Linked DNA regions of Homo sapiens: region 1 is linked to region 2. The links come from fine-mapping of genetic effects on gene expression. A gene starts in region 2. The other region holds a variant in brackets. All regions are shown on one strand. Distances are between the middles of the regions.

Region 1 (9,927 bases), 38 kb before region 2:
GTGGGACTGTTCTCTTGTAGTCAAAATATTTATCTGGTTCTATGGCTACTTTTCAATAGTCTAATAACAAGTGAGTAAGTTGGGGGAAGCATGGGGAGGTCAGTTTTTCTTGACTGTTCAACCTGCTGAGCATAATGGTGAGTGAGTGGAAAGCTGGGAGACCTGTTCCAACAAGAGCTTTCTCATCCCCTGACCTTAGGCCAAATCACACCCTCCCTGGTGTATAGGCTTTCAAGGCTTAAAAGGGAAATTTTGATCTTCTCCCTACCTACTCTCTGCTCCTGGTTCTTATGAAGTTTGTAATACATCAGAAGCTTCTTGAGTCCAGAAAAGTCTAGAAACACCACTTGGTTAGGTACAACTGGTATCTTCTTATTTTGGAGGAAGAAACCACAGAAAGCAGCAGCTAAAGACCTACCACATGGGACCTCTGCCTTCTCCTGTGTTGCCCAGGACAAGTGGCCCAGTGTTCTTTTCCCAAGGTCTGGAGTCAGATGTTATTTCAACATATATATACCACTAGAGTTACACACACACACACACATGCACAGAGTCGCAGTGTCTTCTCAACTGTTGGAGACTGAATTCAAAGAAATAATAAAATGATAGGAAACTACTACCCTTCTGGATATGAGAAATGGGGTCTAGAGAGGGAGTACTTCAGAAGAGAGTGGAAATGTAGGAGGCCTGAGGAAGATTTTGGTGGTAAGGACAGTATGAGAAATGCACACATGTAGACCATCATAGTCACACTCACGTAGGCTCCTTTTCCTCACTTGTCTCAGTCACGGGGCATTAGTTTATGTTCATAATCCAATAAATGGTTTTGTGAAAATCCCACAGTCTCGGGCACATACCTATGATCTGTAACTAGATAAGTCCTGTGGCTGTCAGTCAGGGTCTTCACTATTCTTTCTCCTCTTGGTAGACAACCTCTTGTGCCCCTGGGAAGTAGAGGAGGAGGAGGAGACCTTTAAATTGGTAACCTGTGTGCATGCTGCGTGTTCCCTGCTTGATCTATGGGCAGCCTCTCCTGGGATGAAAACAGTAGCTCTGGGTCATGGCTCTGCAGGGAGAGAAGACCTGGTTAAGACTTGGGCTTTGGCAGGCTGTGGTGACTCATGCTTGTAATCCCAGAACTTTAGGTTCCAAGGTGGGAGGATTGCTTGAGCCCAGGAGTTCAAGACCAGCCTAGACAACATGGAGAGACCCCATCTCTGCAAAAAAATACAAAAATAGCCAGATATGGTGGCACATGCTTATAGTCCCAGCTACTAGGGAGGCTGAGGTGGGTGGATCACTTGAGCCTGGGAGGTTGAGGCTACGGTGAGCTGTGATTGCGCTGCTGCACTCCAGCCTGGGCGACTGAGATTCCATCAAAAAAAAAAAAAAAAAGACGGGCTATCTGATCCTGTTTGGCTTCTGCCTACCTAAAGCTTTTTGCTGGTCCAAAAAGGCGCTTCATTCCAGTCATGCAGCTGCCCCAGTCTTGGTCTTTATTTAGGAGTGCTCGGCTCTTTCATCTGGTCCTGCTTCTAAAACATTCCGGTACTGCTTTCTCCACTCCAGCTTTCCCAGATCTCCAGGAAGTCTTTTTTTTTTTTTTTTTTTTCCAATTGAGCTATCATTTACATACCTAAAATTCACCTTTTAAAAATGTATAATTCAGGGGTTTTAGAATATCCACAAGATTGTATAACCATTACTATCTAATTCCAGGACGTTTCATCATCCCCAGAAGAAAAACTTCATAATCCCCATTAGCAGTCACTACTGATTCTCCCCTCCCCTTGCCTCTGGCAACCACCAGTCTATTTTCTATCTCTGGGTTTGCCTGTGCTGGACATTTCGCAGAAGCTGACCCATAACATATGGCCTTTCGTGTCAGGCTTCTTTCGTCCCAGACAGCTGTTTGTGTATACACAGTTGCTCTGTGCTGTTCTGGGGCATGGGAGGAGGAAACATCATGAGATGGGCATGGTCTCAAGGAGTGGCCTTCCTGCTGCAGATACTGGGGCCATAAGCCTAGATACCATAAATGAATATGAGAGTCTTGGGGATGAAACCCAGCAGTTAGAACAGAAACTCGTGGATTGATTTGGTTCTTCTTTTCTAATCTGGTATGACAGCCGGAACTTGACCATCTCTTAGCCACCTGGGCTGAGATTTCTTGGTAGGGGTCCTCTCCTGTCCATCTTTATCCCAGTTCTGCTTCCCTGGCATAGTTTTTATTACTACCTCCCCCCCGCCATGCCACCCCCACATACTCTACACACCTTGTAGGGCCCTTGGCATTTGTATTACGGCTGCTACCTTTGAAGGGGTGGGAAAGAGCTAAGGCATGTGGGCATCTGTTGTTGGAGGAACACGTGGGAGTGCGGTGTCAGTGCGTGGCTGCTGTTCCTCTTTGCGGGAGTCTCTCCAGCCACTTACGGAAGGTTGCCTTCTGCTAGGGACAACCCTCCCAGGGCTGACTGAGAAGTGTTTTGGCCTAGGAGTTTCCTGGGACCTGTCAAGAAAACAAAAATAATACTATGTACTAAACTTTAGTCTATTTAATTCCAACATCCCTATTACGAGAAAATAGACTTTGAATACTTCATCTCTCCTTAAGTCACATAGCTAACACTTCAGCCCAGTTCTGTCTGTCTGTGTTCAAACTTTTGTGCTGTTTTCACACAGGGAAGCAAGGGGGCAAGGCTTGCTTTCCTGTTGCACCACACTCTCTTACATTCTTTGCCACCCAACAATATATTCCACATGCTGGATCTCTGCCCCTTTCTTCAAAGTAAGGGCCTCTGTGAAGTGGCCAAGGTAGTCATGTCTGCATGGCTTACGCTGATTATCTGCTGTAGAGTTTGAAAGAAATTAGAAATGAGGCCTTCCATAGACAGAATCTCTCGTCTTCTCTTGCAGCCAACAGGAAGGCCGGGTGTGCAGTCACATCTCTGCTAGCTTCGGAGCTGACCAAGGATGATGCCATGGCTGCTGTTCCTGCCAAGGTGTCCAAGAACAGTGAGACATTCCCCACAATCCTTGAGGAAGCCAAGGAGTTGGTTGGCCGTGCAAGCTAATGTGGGTCCTGTGACCGCGGCAGCTCCTCAGCGGAGCCGCAGACTGTCCTGCCCTGCAGCATGTGCCTAAAGGCTCAAGGGGATATTCCTCTGGGGTGGCCACTCCCACCACCCTGACCCTGTCTTTCTCTCTGGCCTGCTGCTCTCTCAACATCACATACAGCTTCAGCTGCCTGGAGGCCAGAAGGAAAGGGCAGTGCAGGGGAGGCCTGAGCCCGACTTAGCCAGCCCTGGCTGTTGTATTACCAAAGCAGGGTCCATGTTTGCTGCCTTAACCCTGTCTCCTCTCTGTTACTCAGAGGGCCTCATCTCAGACAAGGCCCAGCCTGCTTTTTCTCAGCCCTGACTTTCTAATGGGCTTTCCCCCCTAGGTCAGTCTTGCTGGATTTGTGCTTTTCTTTTGTGGTTTCTCTGGCCCTGAGAATAGCATGGGGCTTGTAAACCTTTGGGCTAGATCCCTCCTTTCATTGCTGTTGTCTCTGCTCTTCCCTCTCCTGGCTGTGGTTATTTATTATTAGTGGTGTGGCACTGGGAGCTGCTCCTAAGGAAGCAGGGAGCAAATCCCACCTTTACCCCACCTTCCTGGGAAAGGCCTCCAAAGCAAAGGATCTGGACCAGTTTCCCTGCTGTGCTGTGGCCCAGGCCAGAGCCTGTGGGCAGGCAGGCAGGGCATAGCGACAGTGTGGGACCTGCCCCCAGCTTCTGCCACGCTTTATGCCCTTGCCTCTCTGGACGCTCTGCACCAACCCCAGGCTACTGAGCCACCTTCCCTCCTCATGCCTTCCCTGAGCTTTGGTGCATCTCATCTGGACTATGGGTTGTACTGTGACCATCCCAACACCTCACCCTCTGTCTACAAGGAAATGGGAGGTGGAGCCTCCTGGCTGAGAAATTGTTTTGCAAATGGATCTATTTTTGTATGAAAAAAAAAATTTTTTTAAAGAAAACTGTTCCTTCCCCCTTTCCCCTCCATAATGTAAGAAGCTTTGGTGGCAGGTTACAGAGTTCTGGGATTTCTTCTCACAGGCCCAATCCTGAATGTGCCCCTGGACCTTCTGGACCCTTGAGTCCAAGGCAGATCCTCTCTCCCAGGGAATCCGACACAGGAGGAACCCCTTCTCTGGTTGAGCTGGGCCAGGCCTAAGAGTAGCAGGAACTCTAAGACCACAGAGTTTTTTATAAATGTATAAATGTATCAAGCCAAATGTGCAGATGCTAACTGGACATTCTGGGGAACTGGGCACCAGGAGTGCCTTCATACACTGTACCCCAGCTCTCTTCTAAAAGAGAAGTGGGTGGGCACACTGAACTGTTTGGTGGCCCCAACCACAGGAAGCTGCAATTCT[C/G]TGGCTTAGGGTGATACTTTTGCCCTCCTTGTGCCCCTCTCAGCTTTCCATCCCCAGCTAGGAAGAAAGAATGGCACTCTTGGGCTTGGCCCAGAATTAGAGTTATTAGAGCAAGAGAGAGCTTAGGAAGCATGAGGGCAACTATAGTGAGGCCTTATTGCCAGGAGGGAGGGTTTTGGTTGCTGGCGCTTGTGTATAAAGGGGCAAGAGCAGCTCCTTTGGACTATTCCTGGGAGGACTCTGATGCAGGGCGTCTGTTGCTCCCCTGGGTCACCTCCTCCCTGCTCGCTGACATCTGGGGCTTTGACCCTTTCTTTTTTAATCTACTTTTGCTAAGATGCATTTAATAAAAAAAAAGAGAGAGAGAGAGAGGTGTGAGGGACAAAATGCAAACCTATTTCCCTTGCCTCATAGGCTTCTGGGATGTCATCACCTCCAGTTTGTTGGTTTTGTTTCCAACTGTTAATAAAGCATTGAAACAGTACTGCCTTACAGCTTCCTGTGTGAATTTCTGAGCTGTTTTCTTTTCACTCTAGTCCAGGCTCCTCTAGTCTTTCCTGCCTCAAATCCCTGGTTGACCTGACAAATCACTGTGAAAAAGCTAAAGGTGCCAGACACTTTACTTGGGCACAGGGCTAGAGATGATTAATACATGGTGGCTGCTGCCCCACCAGAGCTCACCTCAGGGCCGTTTGGCCACAGTAAAGGAGTGGGCGCCTGGTTCAGCTCCCTGACTCTTCCACATTGCTGCTACTTGGTTTGGAGCCCTTTTTTGGAACTCACTTGGAACCTTTCATGTTCCCAGATGTCACGCAAGGTTTCCTGGCAGTACCTGTGTCTCTTGCTGAGGGAAGCATCTGGCTCCCATTTTCTCATCCCCTCTGCTCTGTTGGTGGCCACAGACCACATTCCAGAGTAGAGGGGTTTACCCTGGGGTGGAAACCTGAGCCTGCCCAGCAGAGGTTGGGAGCCTGAGGTCATGCTCCAGATGACTTGCCACTTGGAGCCATACTTGTCTGAGCACGTTATGACCTGCACAAAAAAGCCAGACCAGCAATGAGCAGGCCCAGGATAGACAGGGAGAGGCCTGGAGAGGACCACAAACCCATTCGGGCGGGCTCTGGAACTGGAAATAAAAGCCTTTTAAATAGCCCTGGAGCCTGGGCAGCTGCCTCCTCAGTATGGCCTGAGGTGTGGGGATGGGTTGCCTGCCGCCTCCCTCCCGTCCCCCCGGAGGCCACGCCTTTCTGGTTCAGAGCTTTATAGGCACACATACCAATTAGGGGACAAACCACAGCTGCTCACGCGCTCTGCCAGTCTGCTGCTGTGCCTGGAATAGAACCCAGGCGCCCGGCACCCCGCCCCTCCGCAGCCTGGCTCTGAGTAACAAAACCCTGCTTCCATCTCAGCAACCGTGCACACCACCCTTCCTCCCACGCTAGAAAGTCGCCCCCAGATTCTTAAGTTGGAAGGTTTGGTTCCCATGACAACAGACTTGAGCTGGCAGAATGGGTGACCTGGCTCTGGGAGCCTCCGCAGCGCGGAGGAAGCCGCATACCCTTGCTGACCAGCCAGATAACCGCAGTGGCTCTGTCTTTGTGTTCTTGGGTCCTTCCGGGTAGTTCCCCTTTTAAGTCCCCCTTCACCCCCAGCTCCGTGTTTTTCTGCAGCTTCTCTGGCTGCAGCAACCTCGGAATCCCACAGTGCTTCGAGGAGGCAGGCGGAGGGGGCGGGGAGATGGGAGAGCAGGCGAGTGAGTGGAAAAGCACCGACAGGAAGGAGGGAGGGGAGCTGAGTCTGCGATGGATCTCATTTCCTGCACGTCCTTTCAGTCCCCTTGACCCCCGCAAGAAGAGGATGAGCCCTCCAATTTCTTAGGCTTCGCTACGGAGATGTCAGCGGGAAGGCGAATTCCAGATGGGGAAACTGAGGCTCGAGCTGCAGACTTGGCTTTGGAAGAATCACCTCCCGCATTCCCTCCCACTCCCGCGGCTTTCCCAAAACCCCTAGGCAGCGGGGGTGGGGGTGCGGGGGCAAAGGAGAGTCTACCCTCCTCCCGTGAAGCCCTCCGGGGCGCTTCGGGTAGGCAATTTTAGTCAGGAAGGGGCGGGAACTAACGAAACGTCCTCTCCCCTCTACCCAAGGCGTTTGCCCGGCGCCAACCCGCCCCCGCCCGCGCCGGGGTCTCCTCTTCTGCCTGGAGACAGCCGCAAGCTTAGACTGCACACTCCACTGCACACTGACACGCCGCACTCAGATCCCCACCCCCACAGCGGACCGATCACACAATGGCACACGGTACACAGATCCATAGGCACACAATCGCACACTGTCTCATAGGCACAACGGCATTGCAAGCATACACAACCATATTGCACAGTCACACACACACACGCAATTCGGAAACATCTAGACGCGCAATGACACAAAGTGGCCTCCCGATTCCGCCCTTCTTCCAGCACCCACCTCAGCTCATCACTTCATGCACACATGCCAGGAGCTTCCATCGCTTATACAGAAACGTTCAGCTTTTCAGAAGAAACGTTTTATTATTTTTTTGTCGAAGAAAAAAAGCCATATAAATATTAGAGTATAAAACTTGCGTGAGACACAGGAAGAGGGTGGGGTGGGAGCTACGTGACTATGCGAAGAGAAGCGCTTATAGGAGAAGTCAGTACGGGGGAGGGGGTCGCCTTAGCGCGTGGACACAGCACAAAACACAACACGGGCCGCCGCGGGCAGATCAAGGACAGACGGCTGCGCGGAGCCCGCCGCCCGCTGCCCACCCGCCATCACGTAAAAGCACACCGCACTACACTACTGGCTATTCTACACCAGCCGAAAGAGGGAGGGGGCGCTACACTACTGTAAGGGCAGGTCTGGGGTTCTCTGGCAGCCCCGCTGGATGGCCGGGGACCCAGGGGCAGAAGGGGGTGGGAGAAGAAGGTCTATGCACAAGGAGGCACTGGGGAACTTTAACCAGGCTATGGCCACTAGGGGGCGCACTGGGGACCTGGGCAGTGGCCTTCACGGAAGAGAAACGGCACCTGGCAAGGTGAAGGACTGAGGCTTCAGGAGGGCAGGGGCCCTGTTGAAGAAGCCCCATCCTGGGCTGAGACTTTCTGTTCATTTGGTCCCTGCCCTAGCTCCCTGCCTCCCCAACCCAGGGACTAAGAATGGCCTGGCTGGCCCACCCTTCCTGCTGGGGCTCCGCTGACCCTTCCACCAGTGGCACCTCTGGAGTACCCAGCACCCACAGAGGCCCCTCTGACCTCTCAAGGGGACCTGGTCCTAAACCTGCTTCGAGCTTCCTTGGACTGAAATGCCAGTTTAATCCATTGGTCCTGTTAGCTCAGCCCAAAGCTGGCTGCCTGGGCTGAGCCCTATTATGTAGTGGGAAGGGTCCAGCCTAGTTATTGGTTTATGGCTGGAATCTGGAGGATGTTGTCAGTCCCCTGAGGACATACAGAGCCTCCTCCAAGGCCTTGATAACTTGATGTGTCAAGCTTTGTCCATGCCCCCACCATCCACATCCACACACTTCCCTTCCTTATCTTACCACCCCATACTGTCTTGGAACATGCAGTGGAGTCTCTTGTTTGAGGAGGAGGTGGGGGAAGTCAAGGCATGCAGTGGAAACGTCAAACAATGAAAAACAAAACAGAAGACTGGTCCCCAGGGCGTTGGGAAGAGGCTTGGTAGCAAAATGCCCTCCCTAAATCCAGCAAGCATCAGTACCATGGGGATGGTGATCATGTCCTCCAAAACTTGAGCATTGATCTTGGGCTCTGGAAGGAGGTGAAGGGGCTGGCACCAAACCATGCTTTGGGGGAAGATTGAGAATCAAAGGAGAGGCCAAGAGGTCATGATGCCCTTCCAACTTTTCAGAACTAGGAGGCTTGTAGGTTACTTGGTACTTCAACACCCCAACCACCTTACTCGGGAAAGAGGAACTGTTGGAGTGGGGTGGGGAGGAGGGAGGCATGGGATGGATGGGCCTGATTGATTTGGAAGATGGAGGAGTTCAGCTGTAACTAAACGGGGTGTGGCAAATGGTTCTTGGTGTCTACAGTAACCCCACTACCCCCATGGGTACAGCAGTTGATTGGATGGGGGTTCCCAGCGGAACTGCTTTTGCATATTCAACCCCCTGGGGGGGAAGGGGTAGGTGCTGACTGGGCACTTGTTTCTGTTTCCCAAGGGGAGCATGGCCTTGGCCCCTACCAGTATTCTGGGGGTTAGCCCTGAAACTCTGAGGCCTGGGTGCAGGTAAGGAGAAGCTGGGCTGGTTGGGGAGAGGCCGCCCTGTGGCTCTTGGCCTGGCCTCCATGTTACTTCTTCTCCTTCTTGCCCGACTTCTTCTTGTTGCCATTGCCACCTGCTGGGGCCTTGCCATCCCGCTTGCCAGCTGCGTTGGTCAGTGTGGCATTGCTGCCTGGGATGTAGACATTCTGGCGGTAGTCGGGCACGTGCTGCAGGGTGAACTGGGGTCCGTAGCGGGCGCTCAATCCCATGGTGCCGGCACCCCCTCCCAGGGTGGAGCTCCCATCAGCAGCTTCTGCAGAGACAGAGGAAGATCAGGTGGGAGCTAAACTTAGGGTCCTCAACAGTCACTGTCTTATATCCCCAGCAGTTAATGAATGCCTATACAGCACCCTGGGCCTTGACCACGCTGAGCACTGGGAATATAGGGGTCACCAAGGTAGTCTCTCTTCACAAGAGTTGAGGGTAGAGGTTAAGAGGCTCTGGAGTGAGAAAGTCTAGGTTTGATTCCTAGCTCCTTTCCTTACTCACTGTGATCCTGGGCAAGTCTACCTAACCTCCTTATGCCACTTCAGTTTTCTCATCTGCAAAATGGGGATGATAATGGTAACCACCTCTTCTGGTTTTAGTGAATGCTAAATAAGAAAATGTATGTCAGGTACGTAAAATAGTGCCTGGTAGATGTAAGTGCTCAAAACACATTCGCTGGTATTTCTCTCAGGGCTGTGACACGGGCTCTCAGTTCCTTGCCCTGGCTTTCTCAAGGGAGCCTCTGACTCCCACACTAGACCATGGGCTCCTGGAGGGCAGCAGCCATGAAACCATGGCTTTACATGCCCCTAGCCTTTGCCAAGCAAGGCCTGGCACGAGTAGAGATTCGGTAGTTCCGTTAGTAAGTGTGTGGGGTGGGGGTGAAGAGTGCTCTTCCAAGCCTCCATTTCAAAACAGCATTTTTTTTTTTTTTTTTTTAAGATGGAGTCCTGCTCTGTCGCCCAGCCTGGAGTGCAGTGGCGCGATCCCGGCTCACTGCAACCTCTGCCTCCTGGGCTCAAGTGATTCTCCTGCCTCAACCTCCTGAGTAGCTGAGATTACAGGTGCACACCACTAGCCCAGCTAATTTTTGTATTTCAAAACAGCATTTGAGCACCTACTGTGTGCCAGGCACTCTGCTGGATGCTTCACATGCACAATCACTTTTAACCTCTACATAACAGCCCAGCCAGCTATGTGGTATGACCCTCATT
Region 2 (12,131 bases):
AATACCATAATCCCTCTGCATGGAATTTCTTGCAATGGCCCCTCCCTGCCCTGTCCTTTCCCCTTTACTGTCTGACAAGCTACTACTCAACCTTTAGATCATAGCTCAAGCATCACCACCTCTATCATTTCTTCCTTTCTCCAGGCTCATTTAGGTGTTTTTTCCCGTTTGGTCCCACTGCATCTTATGCTATGCAGATCTCCATTATCTTTTTTTTTTTTTTTTTTTGCATGTCTGTCTCATACTGTACTCTGGGTACCAGAATGATAACTTTTAATTGTTTACAGTGTCTGGCACATAGGGATGCTAATAAATGGTGAATATCAGTATTATCATTTTTAGTTCAACAAATAGTTATTGAGTACTTGCTCCATACAGGGACTTTATATGCATTACTTTTCACTCTCACAACAAGTTTGCAAAGTAGATATTCTCTTTATTTTATAGATGAGGAAACTGGAGTTTAAAGAGATTAAAAGACTTACCTAAGCTAAACAACTAATATGTACAGTACTATACTTATATTGGCAATTTCACACCAAAACAAGTACCTGGTCTGTTTTACTAGAACTGGAGCATCGTAAAGCCTTAATCTTACATATCTTTGACTTGACCTTTTTATGCCAGCCATATGATTCTCCCATCTCTAGATATTTTTTTTTTTTTTTTGAGATGGAGTGAGTTTTGTTCTTGTTGCCCAGGCTGGAATGCAACAGCATGATCTTGGCTCACTGCAACCTCTGCTTCCTGAGATAAAGCGATTCTCCTGCTTCAACCTCCCAAGTAGCTGTGACTACAGGCACCTGCCACCACATCTGGCTGATTTTTTTTTTTTTTTTTTTTTTGAGATGGAGTTTCGCTCTTTCACCCAGGCTGGAGTGCAGTGGCGCGATCTCGGCTCACTGCAACCTCCACCATCAAGCGATTCTCCTGCCTCAGCCACCACGCCTGGTGAATTTTTGTATTTTTAGTAGAGACGGGGTTTCACCATGTTGGCCAGGCTGGTCTTGGACTCCTGACCTCGTGATCCGCCCGCCTCCGCCTCCCAAAGTGCTGGGATTACAGGCGTGAGCCACCAGGCCCGGCCTGATTTTTGTATTATTAGTAGAGATGAAGTTTCACCATGTTGGCCAGGCCGGTCTTGAACTCCTGGCCTCAGGTGATCCGCTGGCCTCAGCCTCCCTAAGTACTGGGATTACAGGCGTGAGCCACTGAGCCCAGCCCCATCTCTAGATTTTTACTGAGACATAATTCACATACCATGCAAATCACATATTTAAAGTGTATAATCCAATGGTTTTCAGTGTATTTACATGTACTAAACTGATACAATCATCATCACAATCTAATTATACAAGAATTTTGTCACATCCCTCCAAAAAGAACCCAATATCTATTGAACAGCTGTAGATGTTTAAATAATAGTTGTCCAGGGGCTAGTGCTTTAGGAAGGTTTTTCCCTTAGATGACTGAAATACCATTTTATGTCTTCCTACAGTGATCTTTTAGAGCTATGCTATGTAATACTTTAAGGCTGGGAGACCTTACCATGTTTTTTAAAAAAATTGGGCCTGGCCCAATAAAGCTGGATTCTGGTTCTGCAAATACCAGAATAACACTTTACTTCACAAATATGCTAAATGATGGATTGGTAGGTTCCAGAGTACTGCTTTTCTTTTTTCTTTCTTTCTTTTTGTTTTTGAGGTGGAGTCTCGCTCTGTCGCCCAGGCTGGAGTGCAGTGGTGTGATCTGGGCTCACTGAAACTTCCACATCCTGGGTTCACTGATTCTCCCTCACTGATGCTTCCGCCTCAGCCTCTAGAGTAGCTGGGACTACAGGTATGCGCCACCATGCCCAGCTAATGTTTGCATTTTTAGTAGAGACGGGGTTTCACCATATTGGCCAGGCTGGTCTCAAACTCCTGATCTTATGATCCACCCACCTCAGCCTCCCAAAGCTGTGGTTTTCAAATTTGTCTGCACATTAGGATCAAGTGGGGACCTTCAAAAAATGATGCCTATGTCCCACCCCCAGAGACTGTGCTTTCATTTGTCGGGGTGTGGCCTGGGTTTCAGAATTTTTAAAAGGTCTCTAGGTGATTTTAATGTGCAACCAAGTTTGAAAACATTGTTCTAGGGAAAATGCCAGTTGCTTTCCAGGCTGACCAGAAGAGCGGCAGTTATTTCTTGCTGGCTTTCATGCTTTCTTAGCCTTTTCATATGTGCTTCTACTTTGTCATTTTTGGTTGTTCTCATATGTGTATTTCTAAGGTGTGTTTGAGATTTTAGGTGAGTGAGGAACTAATAAAAATAATTATAGTAATAGCTGATAATTTTTTTTTTTGAGACAGGGTCTCACTCTATTGCCATGGTTGAAGTGTAGTGGTGCAATCACAGCTGACTGTAGCTTCAACCTCCCAGGCTCAAGCAATTCTCCCACTTCAGCCTCCCAAGTAGCTGGTACCACAGGTGCATGCCAACACACCCAGCTAATGAAAACACATTTTTTTTTTTTTTTGTAGAGACAGGATCTCACTATGTCGCTCAGGCTGGTCTTGAACTGCTGGCCTCAAGCAATCCGCCTGCCTCAGCCTCCCAAAATGCTAGGAGCTGGCTAATAATTGTTTAACAGTTATGATATGCCAGGCACCATGCTAAACACTTTGCATACATTATATCATGCATGAATCTTATAAAACACTTATTATTCCCTTTTTGCATATGAGGAAGAGGCTTAGAAAGGAGATTGAGTAACTTGGCCACAGACTCCTAGTTGGTAAATGGTAGAACCTCATTTGACTAACTGCCAAATCCAAGAGTTGATAGCAATGATGCACTGAGTAACAAAATAACAGTGTTTCTCCTACAGTTGAGAGTATGTATAGGGTTCTCTCCAGGGCAAAGGCCTTGCAGTCACCTTGCATGGATACCATGCCTTGGATAGTATCCTTGCATACCACCCTGAATTAATGAATGCTTTACCTGTCTAAGGATATGAATTTATCTACCTTTCACATTGTGCATATACTTAAGAAAAATAAGGCTGGAAGGACAGGGACTAACACTGGAGGCACCAAAAAGACTCTCCTTTTGTAGTTTCTGGGATTGTTGTTGTTGTTGTTGTTATTGTTAAAGAGACATGGTTTCCCTATATTGCCTAGGCTGGAGTGCAGTGGCTATTCACAGATGTCATCCCACTACTGGATAGCACAGCAGTTTTGACCTTCTCCACTTCCAACCTGGGCCAGTTCACCCCTCTTTAGGCAACCTGATGGTCCTGCCCTCCCAAGAGGTCACTGTATTCATGCTGAACTTAGTGCAGACAGTGGATTGATCAATTGATCAGCATAGTGCACCACAGCCCAGAACTCCTGGGCTCAAGCAATCCTCCCACCTCAGGCACTGAGCAGCAAGAACTACAGGTGCACACCACTGAGTCTGGCTACTTTATGTTTTCTTGGGTTGCCTAGATTTATTTTTGAAATAAATTATTACTTTTATAATTAAAAATGGTTATCTTTGGGTTTGGAGATTATAGTTTTAATTTTTTAAATACTTTTCTGTATTTTCTGAATTTTCTAGCAAACATGCATTACTGTTATAAGGTAAAAATATTTTGTAAGCAGGGTGCACATCATTTCCAGTAGAATGCTTGAAATAAAATTTAAAGGATGCCTGGAATTTCATTTCATTCATAAAAAATTATCTGAGAATGAGGTACACGATCTGTATAAACAAAGGAAAATTATCAAAAAGCTATTAGTTTTAATACAAATGTCACAATCACTTGAAAGGTGGAGGAATGAGGTAGTTTTTGTATTCCTAGAAGCTGCCACTGGTTAGAGGTATCCAGCAGCTTATTCCTAATGTAAATGATACCAAGCTAAACTCTGATCGCTGAGATCTTGTGTTTTAGCTTAACCATCCCTTAGCAAGATTGGTTAGTTGTGATAGCAAAAGAGTGCTGAGGATGTGAATTAGGTCCACAGATGAGTCAAGTATCTTCCCCCTGAAATGGGACCACAAACCACACTCTGGCAGGCCACCATCTCACAAAGGCACTAACTTTGATCTAGGAAGGGCCAGTTGAAAGTGTGAATGCATCACCAGGAAAACATCTTCATCACTAAAAAAACAGCTCCATTCCTTCCTCAATATGATGTAGGAATAAAAAAGCACTAACAGGGTCAAGCATGACTTGCTAAACCTTACCTGTCCGGGAGGGGCGCTCTCTGCACCCAACACCTGCCTATAGAACACCGGATCACAGCTCCGCAGCGTGTTCTGGCGGCTGGCCAGTGGACTGGCTGCACCAGGTTTCTTCAGCAGCGGGTCGCTGCGGCGGGAGTCCGTGGTGAGATACACCTGATGGTAAAGGTGCGGCGACATCAGGCCTCCCCGCACGGCGTCCGCGTGCAAGGAGGGCCCTGGTGTTCGGTACAGTGAGCTCACCGGGGCTCGGTATAGGTCTCTAGACTGCTTCCACTTGTAAACTTTGAATATGATTACTCCGAACACTGTGACCACAAACCCCACAGAAACCAGGATTAGAGAAAGAAGTAGATAAAAGGTGAGATTTTTTTTCTGCTCCCGGGGGGCAGAGCCAGAGGGGAACTCGGCTCGGGCTTCAGGAGAGTCCTCGGTTACTGACACAGTGAGGGTAGCAGTGGTGGAGAGCGAAGGCTCCCCATTGTCTTTGATCAAGACCGTGAGAGTCTGCCTGGGTGAATCTGTGTCTTGGACTGGACGGGCAGTACTGATTTGACCAGTGTGCAGCCCTATGGCAAAAAGGCTCTGGTTAGGGGATCCCAAGAGACTGTAGGAGAGCCAGGCATTGTGCCCTGCATCCGCGTCCCAGCCTACCACCCGTGACACTAGGTGGCCAGCTGAGGTACCTCGAGGCAGCATCTCCACCGAGCTCCCACCTGGCCGAGGATATAGGACCTGGGGGGCATTGTCATTGCGATCAGTGACAAATATGTTCACGCTGATGTTGGTGGCTAGGACCGGGGTGCCCCCATCGCTGATATGAGCTGTTAATTCAAATTCCCGCCGATCCTCATAGTCTAGGGGCACTAAGGATGACACTATGCCATTGTCACGATTTATTGTGAAATAGCGACCCACTAGCCCGGTTTCAGCTCCTTGCTCCAAGAGAAAGAAAGAAAGCCGAGCATTCTGCGGGGCGTCGGGGTCCCAGACACTTAGGTTTAGTATTGGAGCCCCGGGGAGGTTGTTTTCTTCAATGTAAACGTCGTAGGAAGATTGAGAAGATTGTGGAGGGTTGTCATTGATGTCGGACACTTGAACACGCACTATTGTAAGGGCTGAGAGGGAAGGGGTTCCGGCGTCTCGGGCGGTGATGCTGAGGTTGTATTCTGGCACAGTCTCCCGATCCAGGTCTGCACTGGTTTTCAAAGTGAAGTAATTCTTGAGGGAAGAAGTAAGGCTGAAAGGGAGACCCGGTGGAACTTCGCAGGTCACCAGCCCGTTCTCGCCAGCATCCAGGTCAGTCACACTGAGCAAAGCGATGACAGTCCCCAGAGGGGCATCCTCGGGTACTGGGCTGTACACGGAGGTGACTGTGATCTCCGGGGCGTTGTCATTCACATCCACAACCTCCACCAACACTTTGCAATGTGCTCCTTCGGGATTGGCGCCCTTGTCTTTGGCCTGGATGTAAATCTCATGGAGTTTGGTGTCCTCGAAGTCCAGCCGACCCTTGATTGTCAGCATCCCGGTTACAAGGTCTAAGGCGAATAGTTGCCGCACGCCGGCGCGGTTGTGGCTGCCGAAGGAGTAAATAATTTCACCGTTGGGGCCTTCATCCAGATCCGTTGCAAGGACTTGTACCACGCGCGTGCCGGAGGGTGCATCCTCCAGGACGCGCGCCCGGTACAAGGACTGGTTGAAGACAGGCGCATTGTCATTCGCGTCCAGCACCTTGATGTGAATAGGCAGGCTGGCGGAGAGAGCTGGGGTCCCTCCGTCCAACGCCGTCAGCACTAACTGGAGACTAGGCTCCCGTTCTCGGTCCAGGGCGCGCTCCAACACCAGCTCCGCGTACTTGGTGCTGTCCTCCCGCGTCTGCACGCGAAGCGCAAAGTATTCATTTCGGCTCAGCTCATAGGTTTGTAAAGAGTTGCTTCCCACATCGGGATCGTGCGCGCTCTCGAGCGGAAAGCGCGTCCCCGGAGCCACGGCCTCGCTAATCTCCAATTTCATTTCCTGGGTAGGGAAAGCAGGATTGTTGTCGTTGATGTCCTGGATCACCACTTCCACGCTGAACAGCTCCAGCGGGTTCTCCACTACCAACTCCAGAGTTACAGTGCAAGAGGGCAGTGTCCCACACAGCTCCTCTCGATCCAGACGGTCGTTCACAAACATCTCTCCGGTCTCCCGGTTCACCTCAAAGAATCTTCGGCTAGCTCCAGACACCACCCGGAACCTGCGGGCTGAGAGGCTACCGAGATCCAAACCAAGGTTCGCGACCACGTTGCCCACAGCGAAACCCTTCTCTCTTTCCTCCGGGATCTCATAGTGAATGACCGTGGAAGCCTTGTTCAAGGCACCAAGCAGAAGCAAAACTCCCACTACCCTCCCGGTGCTTACCAGTCCGCTCCTCCAGGCCTCTGGGACCATCTCACTCAAAAGCAGTTCCTCTCAGCGGGGTCCAGATCGTCCCTGAGATTTCGCTGAGAAACTTTCAGCGGGTTAGCGCTTGGGCGCTGGGCGCCGAGTCCGACATGGCTTTCTGGATGCCGTTGATTTGCTCGCCGGCTGTTCAGTCTCTGCCTCATCCCGGGGCGCAGAAAGGGGACGGGCAGGGGCCCGATCTCCAGCGTCTTCATTGGCCGACAGCGGCACACAGAGTCCCAGCCAATAACTGCACGAAGAATGAGCTAGCGCCGGGCTCTCTGAGCAGGACACGCGCTAGCGCCAGGAACTTCACTTTCCTTTGGCTTCCTTCCAGAGTTTCCAGCCAAAGCGCCTTGCCAGTATCGGTGCATAGGAAACCTACCTTAGGGAAAGCCAGCCTTGGGGCTGTGAGGCTAGCCGTTCTGCAAGTCTCCAATCCAAATCAAGACTCATTAAACATTTGAATCACTTTCTTTGATCACAAGAAAGGGGATCGAACCAAACCGAAAACTACACAACATTGTCTGGAAAAACACCAACAAATCTGGCTTGTTGGAAGACAGACAATTAGCCGGACCCTACTTGTAAGGAGGCATTTAGCATTTCCGTGGAGACATTAATAATTTCAGTTTTATCTCTTACCAAATGAAATTAGCATTCCCTGTCACTTCCTCATTATCTGGAGCTACTATCAAATTAGCAGGAGTTACAATCTATTGGTTTAACTCTGGCTTATAAAATTTAAAAGTACAATTCAGATTTTATTTCTTTTAAAACTGGATGTCATTGTTAGCTCTCATTTCTTAAGAACCAGGGAGCAATAAGAAATTTCCCTACCCTGTCTTTCACAAGGAGCATGATCTCAGTTGTAGAGCACACTCTCTCTATCGTTTCCCTTTACTTGATCAATCCTTTTCCCAAGATCTTGGGTACCATATGCCACAAGAAGTTGCACTGCTAATGAAGAAGAAGACGGAGAAGATTTCAAAAAGAAAAAAAGCCAGGCCTATTTACCACCTAGGATCTTTATAAAATTATTGAAATAATGGCAGCAAAGCTCCACAAATCTTTAGAAAATACAAAGCCTTTAGTCACAGAATAAAGAGCCTTAACTTTTCTGCATTTAGAATTGTTGTCACCAAACAAAATTATAATGATTAGGATAGTGAATAAAAGAGTCCACTGTGATATAAGCCAGAGATGAGATGTATATCCTTGAACAAGAAATGAACCTCTAAGAGTTCCTGCTCCTATCCTATTAAATGAAGAAGGCAGGTAAAGTGCCTGGCACAGAGTAAGCCTCAATTAATGATGCAAACCACTCCATTAGATGTAAAGTGTTAGAGCCTCATACTATTTCTGTATATTTGTCTTGGACATCACTTTGATTGCATAGAGTCCTTTTGAAGTATAATAGAACCTTGAACATAAGTGAAGGGGTAGGCACATAGGTTAGGTAGGTAGAAAAGAAGTAAGGATATATAGGATATTTCCGGAAGAGATGAAAAGCCATATGTGACCTATATTTCCATGTCTTTAACACTTCAATTAATCTCTGAAAACCCCCAGTTTTAAATGCTCAAGTTTGATAATTAGCCAGACCAGCAAGAGGGCTGATAGGCATTAGAAGATAGAATACATTTAGAATTTAGAATAAAGAGTATAGCCCAATCACTTGCTACTCAAAGTGTGAGGACCAATGGTCTAGGCATCACCGGGGAGCTTGTTAGAAATGCAGAAATGCCCTCCTCTAGACCTACTGAGACATGACTTACATTTTAACAAAACATCAGGGTGATTTGAAAACACATTAAAGTTTGACAAGCACTGATCTAGTGGGTTATTCAGAGATACACTGGTTTATCAGTCTTTTTTTCCCCTATTCAGCATCACTTAATTCACAATCTGGTTTTTGAAAATCAGCTTTTAAAAATGTAAGTAGTTTTCTCAATAATAAGGCCTGTCATTTTCTTGATAATAAGGCCTGTAGTTTTCTGAGATTTTCGTTGTTGTTGTTTTTGTTGTTGTTTGTTTTTTGGTTTTTGTTTCTGAGGCAGGATCTCGCTCTGTCATCCAGGCTGGAGTACAGTGGAATAATCATAGCTCACTGTAACTTCCAGCTCCTTGGGCTCAAGGGATCCTCCCGCCTCAGACTTCTAAGTAGATGGGACTACAGGCCTGAGCTACTGCACCCAGCTCATAGTTTTCTTAAGACCTCTTCATGAACCAACAGAACCCTTGTGTATGCATTCTCCACAATAGCGAGGTTCATCTTCCTAAAATTTTAATTGGATCACACAATTGTCCAGCTGCTCCTCAGTAGCATCATACTGCTCTTGAATTAAAATACCAAATCCTTTGCATAGTATCCAAGTTCTCATGTCTTCTCCCTCTCTCACTATATTCCATTGCACCACTTGGAGGGTGGTCAGAACCCCAGCCCTTCCCTGTCTCAGGGCCTTCACACAAATTGTTCCTTTGCCAGGAAAGCTGCTTTTTCCTCCCTCCCTTTGCTTTGCTAATTTCTACAGGTCTGTCTGGTCTTAGTTTAAATGTTATTTCCTAATAGAGGTCTTCCATTAGGCCCCAGTTAAAACCAGGATCCTTTGTTATGCTCTCTCAGAACACCTTATATTTTTTCCATTGAACTTGGCACAACTTTAAATTTTATAATTATTTTTGCATAAGCAAAGTATCTGCTTCCCCCACTGAAGAAGAAAAAAAGAAGCTCCAGGAGGGCAGGGACCATGCTATTTTGGTGGCCACTTGCATCCTCACTGTCTAGCACAGCAGGCACTTAATGCTTATTAATATAGCAATCTTTATGCTACTGACATAGTAAAATAATCATAGCATACACTAAGGACTATATATGTATTCACTTGTGTGGATCCAATCTCCCTGGAAGTAAGCATTTTTTAGAAGATACATTTACTCCTTCAAGTTACCAGTGGGCCTTCCTAGCCCTAGTGATCTGAAGAGATAATATAGTTTGCCAAAGAGCCAAGTAAAGTGTGGTAATACAACTCACAGTGGATAATAAACAAAGATGCTGTAACTTGTTGTATCACTTCTTTCTTTCTTTCCTTCCTTCCTTCCTTCTTTCTTTTTCTTTTTCTTTCTTTTTTTTTTTTTTTTTGAGTTTCACTCTTGTTCCCCAGGCTGGAGTGCAATGGCATAATCTTGGCTCACCACAACCTCCTCCTCTTGGGTTCAAGCAATTCTCCTGCCTCAGCCTCCCGAGTAGCTGGGAATACAGGCATGTGCCACCATGCCCAGCTAATTTTCTATTTTTAGTAGAGACGGGGGTTTCTCCATGTTGGTCAGGCTGATCTTGAACTCCCAACCTCAGGTGATCTGCCAGCCTCCGCCTCCCAAAGTGCTGGGATTACAGGTGTGAGCCACAGCGCCTGGCCTGTATCACTTATTTCTAGGGGAAATGGAAGGACCAGTATACAGGATTTATATACTGATTCAACACAATTTCCCAGTCTTTATCTTTTTTCTTCTTTGTTTTATAATTTCAAGAGAGCTTCTGACCAATGAGATGCAGCATTTATAATATAATTTTTTTTTTCTTGAGATGGTGTCTCACTCTGTCACCCAGGCTGGAGTGCAGTGGCACGATCTCGTCTCACTGCAAGCTCTGCCTTCTGGGTTCAAGCGATTCTCCTGCCTCAGCCTCCCTAGTAGCTGGGATACAGGTGCGTGCCACCACGCCTGGCTAATTTTTTCTATTTTTAGTGGAGACGGGGTTTCACCGTGTTAGCCAGGATGGTCTCGATCTCCCAACCTCGTGATCTGCCTGCCTCGGCTTCCCAAAGTGCTGGGATTACAGGTGTGAGCCACTGTGCCCGGCTATAATATAACTTTAAAATAGAAAGTGAATGTATTATATGATCGAGAGTAAGGTCTTAGTGTCAAAAAGATTCAAATTCCAATACTGGATATTACACCTAGTAGCTATGTAACCATGAAACTTTTATTTTTAACTTCTCTTTTATTTTCTTTATGTATAAAATGGGAATAATAATAGTACTCATTGATATAACCACAGACATGTCAATCATTTTTAAAATCTTTTCACAGCTTTCTACATACAATATAGTGCCCCTATACGATGCAGGGATTTTTAATAAATTTATACAGTAATGCAACCAACCCCACAATCCAGTTTTAGAAAACTCTCATCACCCCCAAAATTTCCCTCATGCTTGTCTGTAGTCAATCTTCCTAGCTTCAGCCTCAGGCAACCACAGTTTTGCTTTTTCTGAATATTTTATTAAAAAGGAATTATAAAATAGGTAGTCTTTTATATGTCTTTTATATGACATAGCATAATGTCAAACTCATCTTTTGACCACACCCTCAAATATGTTATGTCTCCAACCTTCCTTACCTGGTAAGTGGCACTTCTATTCCAGCCAGAATTTCAGAAGTAATTTTTAATATTTTTTTCTGCATCCCCACATCCAGTATATTACTAATCCATACCAATGCTTACTACTCCCAAAATATATTTTGAAACTATCAATTACTTACCCTATCTACTGCTACCCCTGAGTCAAAGCAACCTTAAATGCTATCATAGCTTCCTCGCTGTTATTTTTACTCCCTCTCTTGCATTCCCTAAATTCCATTTCACATGCAGAGACCTGAGTAATCTTTCAAAAGGTACATGAGATTATACACTTTCCTTGCTAAAAACATAACTAAGCCTAGCTACGTAACTTGTAGGGTCAGTGCAAAATAAAAATAGGGGGCTTGGAGGCCGGGCGCAGTGGATCATACCTGTAATCCCAGCACTTTGGGAGGCCGAGTTGGGTGGATCACTTGAGGTCAGGAGTTTGAGACCAGCCTTGCCAACATGGTGAAACCCCATCTCTACTAAAAATACAAAAAAATTGCCAGGCATGGGGGTGGGTGCCTGTAATTCCAGCTACTAGGGAGGCTGAGCCAGGAGAATCACTTGAACCCAGGAGGCAGAGGTTGCAGTGAAGGTAAGATCGCACCACTGCACTCTAGCCTGGACAACAGAGGGAGACCCTGTCTCAAAAAAAAAAAAAAAAAAAAGAGGGCTTGGGCTTGTTAATAAAAATGATTGACCAGGCACAGTGGCTCATGCCTGTAGTCCCAGCACTTTGGGAGGCTGAGGTGGGAGGATCACTTGAGGCCAGGAATTTGAGACCAGCCTGAGCAACATAGGGACAGTCCCATCTCTACAAAAAACAAAAACAAAAACAAAAAAACAAACAAACAAAAAACTTATCTGAGCATGGTGGCGTGTGTTTGTCGTCCTAACTACTCAGAAGGCTGAAGTGGGAGGATTGCTTGAGCCCAGGAATTCAAGACTGTAGTGAGTCCACTGCACTCCAGCCAGGGCGACAGAGCAAGACCCTGACTCAAAAAAATAAAATAAAAATTATTAAGAATTTCAAGATGGTAACAGCAGAGCCCTAACCAAAGGGTAGGGGCCTTCAAAGCAAGGGGGC

Evidence for each region.
Region 1: its variant is fine-mapped to the expression of PCDHGC3 in blood mononuclear cells (TOPMed, PIP 0.93).

The regions. Positions count from the first base shown.
Region 1 is chr5:141,509,998-141,519,924 of GRCh38, reverse strand. It overlaps PCDHGA1 (protocadherin gamma subfamily A, 1), which reads right to left. Exons shown (of 4, transcript NM_018912.3): 4 at 6,950-8,978. The coding sequence ends at 8,752. It overlaps PCDHGA2 (protocadherin gamma subfamily A, 2), which reads right to left. Exons shown (of 4, transcript NM_018915.4): 4 at 6,950-8,978. The coding sequence ends at 8,752. PCDHGA3 (protocadherin gamma subfamily A, 3) reads right to left here. Exons shown (of 4, transcript NM_018916.4): 4 at 6,950-8,978. The coding sequence ends at 8,752. It overlaps PCDHGB1 (protocadherin gamma subfamily B, 1), which reads right to left. Exons shown (of 4, transcript NM_018922.3): 4 at 6,950-8,978. The coding sequence ends at 8,752. It also overlaps PCDHGA4, PCDHGB2, PCDHGA5, PCDHGB3, PCDHGA6 and PCDHGA7, and 15 more genes. RefSeq lists enhancers at 2,636-3,261, 3,262-3,887, 4,514-5,139, 5,111-5,360, 5,140-5,765 and 4 more. The variant C/G (reference allele first, on the strand shown) is at 4,421.
Region 2 is chr5:141,470,628-141,482,758 of GRCh38, reverse strand. It overlaps PCDHGC3 (protocadherin gamma subfamily C, 3), which reads right to left and starts at 6,793. Exons shown (of 4, transcript NM_002588.4): 1 at 4,213-6,793. The coding sequence starts at 6,642. The region is part of intron 1 of PCDHGA1 (protocadherin gamma subfamily A, 1); the gene reads right to left. The region is part of intron 1 of PCDHGA2 (protocadherin gamma subfamily A, 2); the gene reads right to left. The region is part of intron 1 of PCDHGA3 (protocadherin gamma subfamily A, 3); the gene reads right to left. It also overlaps PCDHGB1, PCDHGA4, PCDHGB2, PCDHGA5, PCDHGB3 and PCDHGA6, and 12 more genes. RefSeq lists enhancers at 5,943-6,486, 6,944-7,053.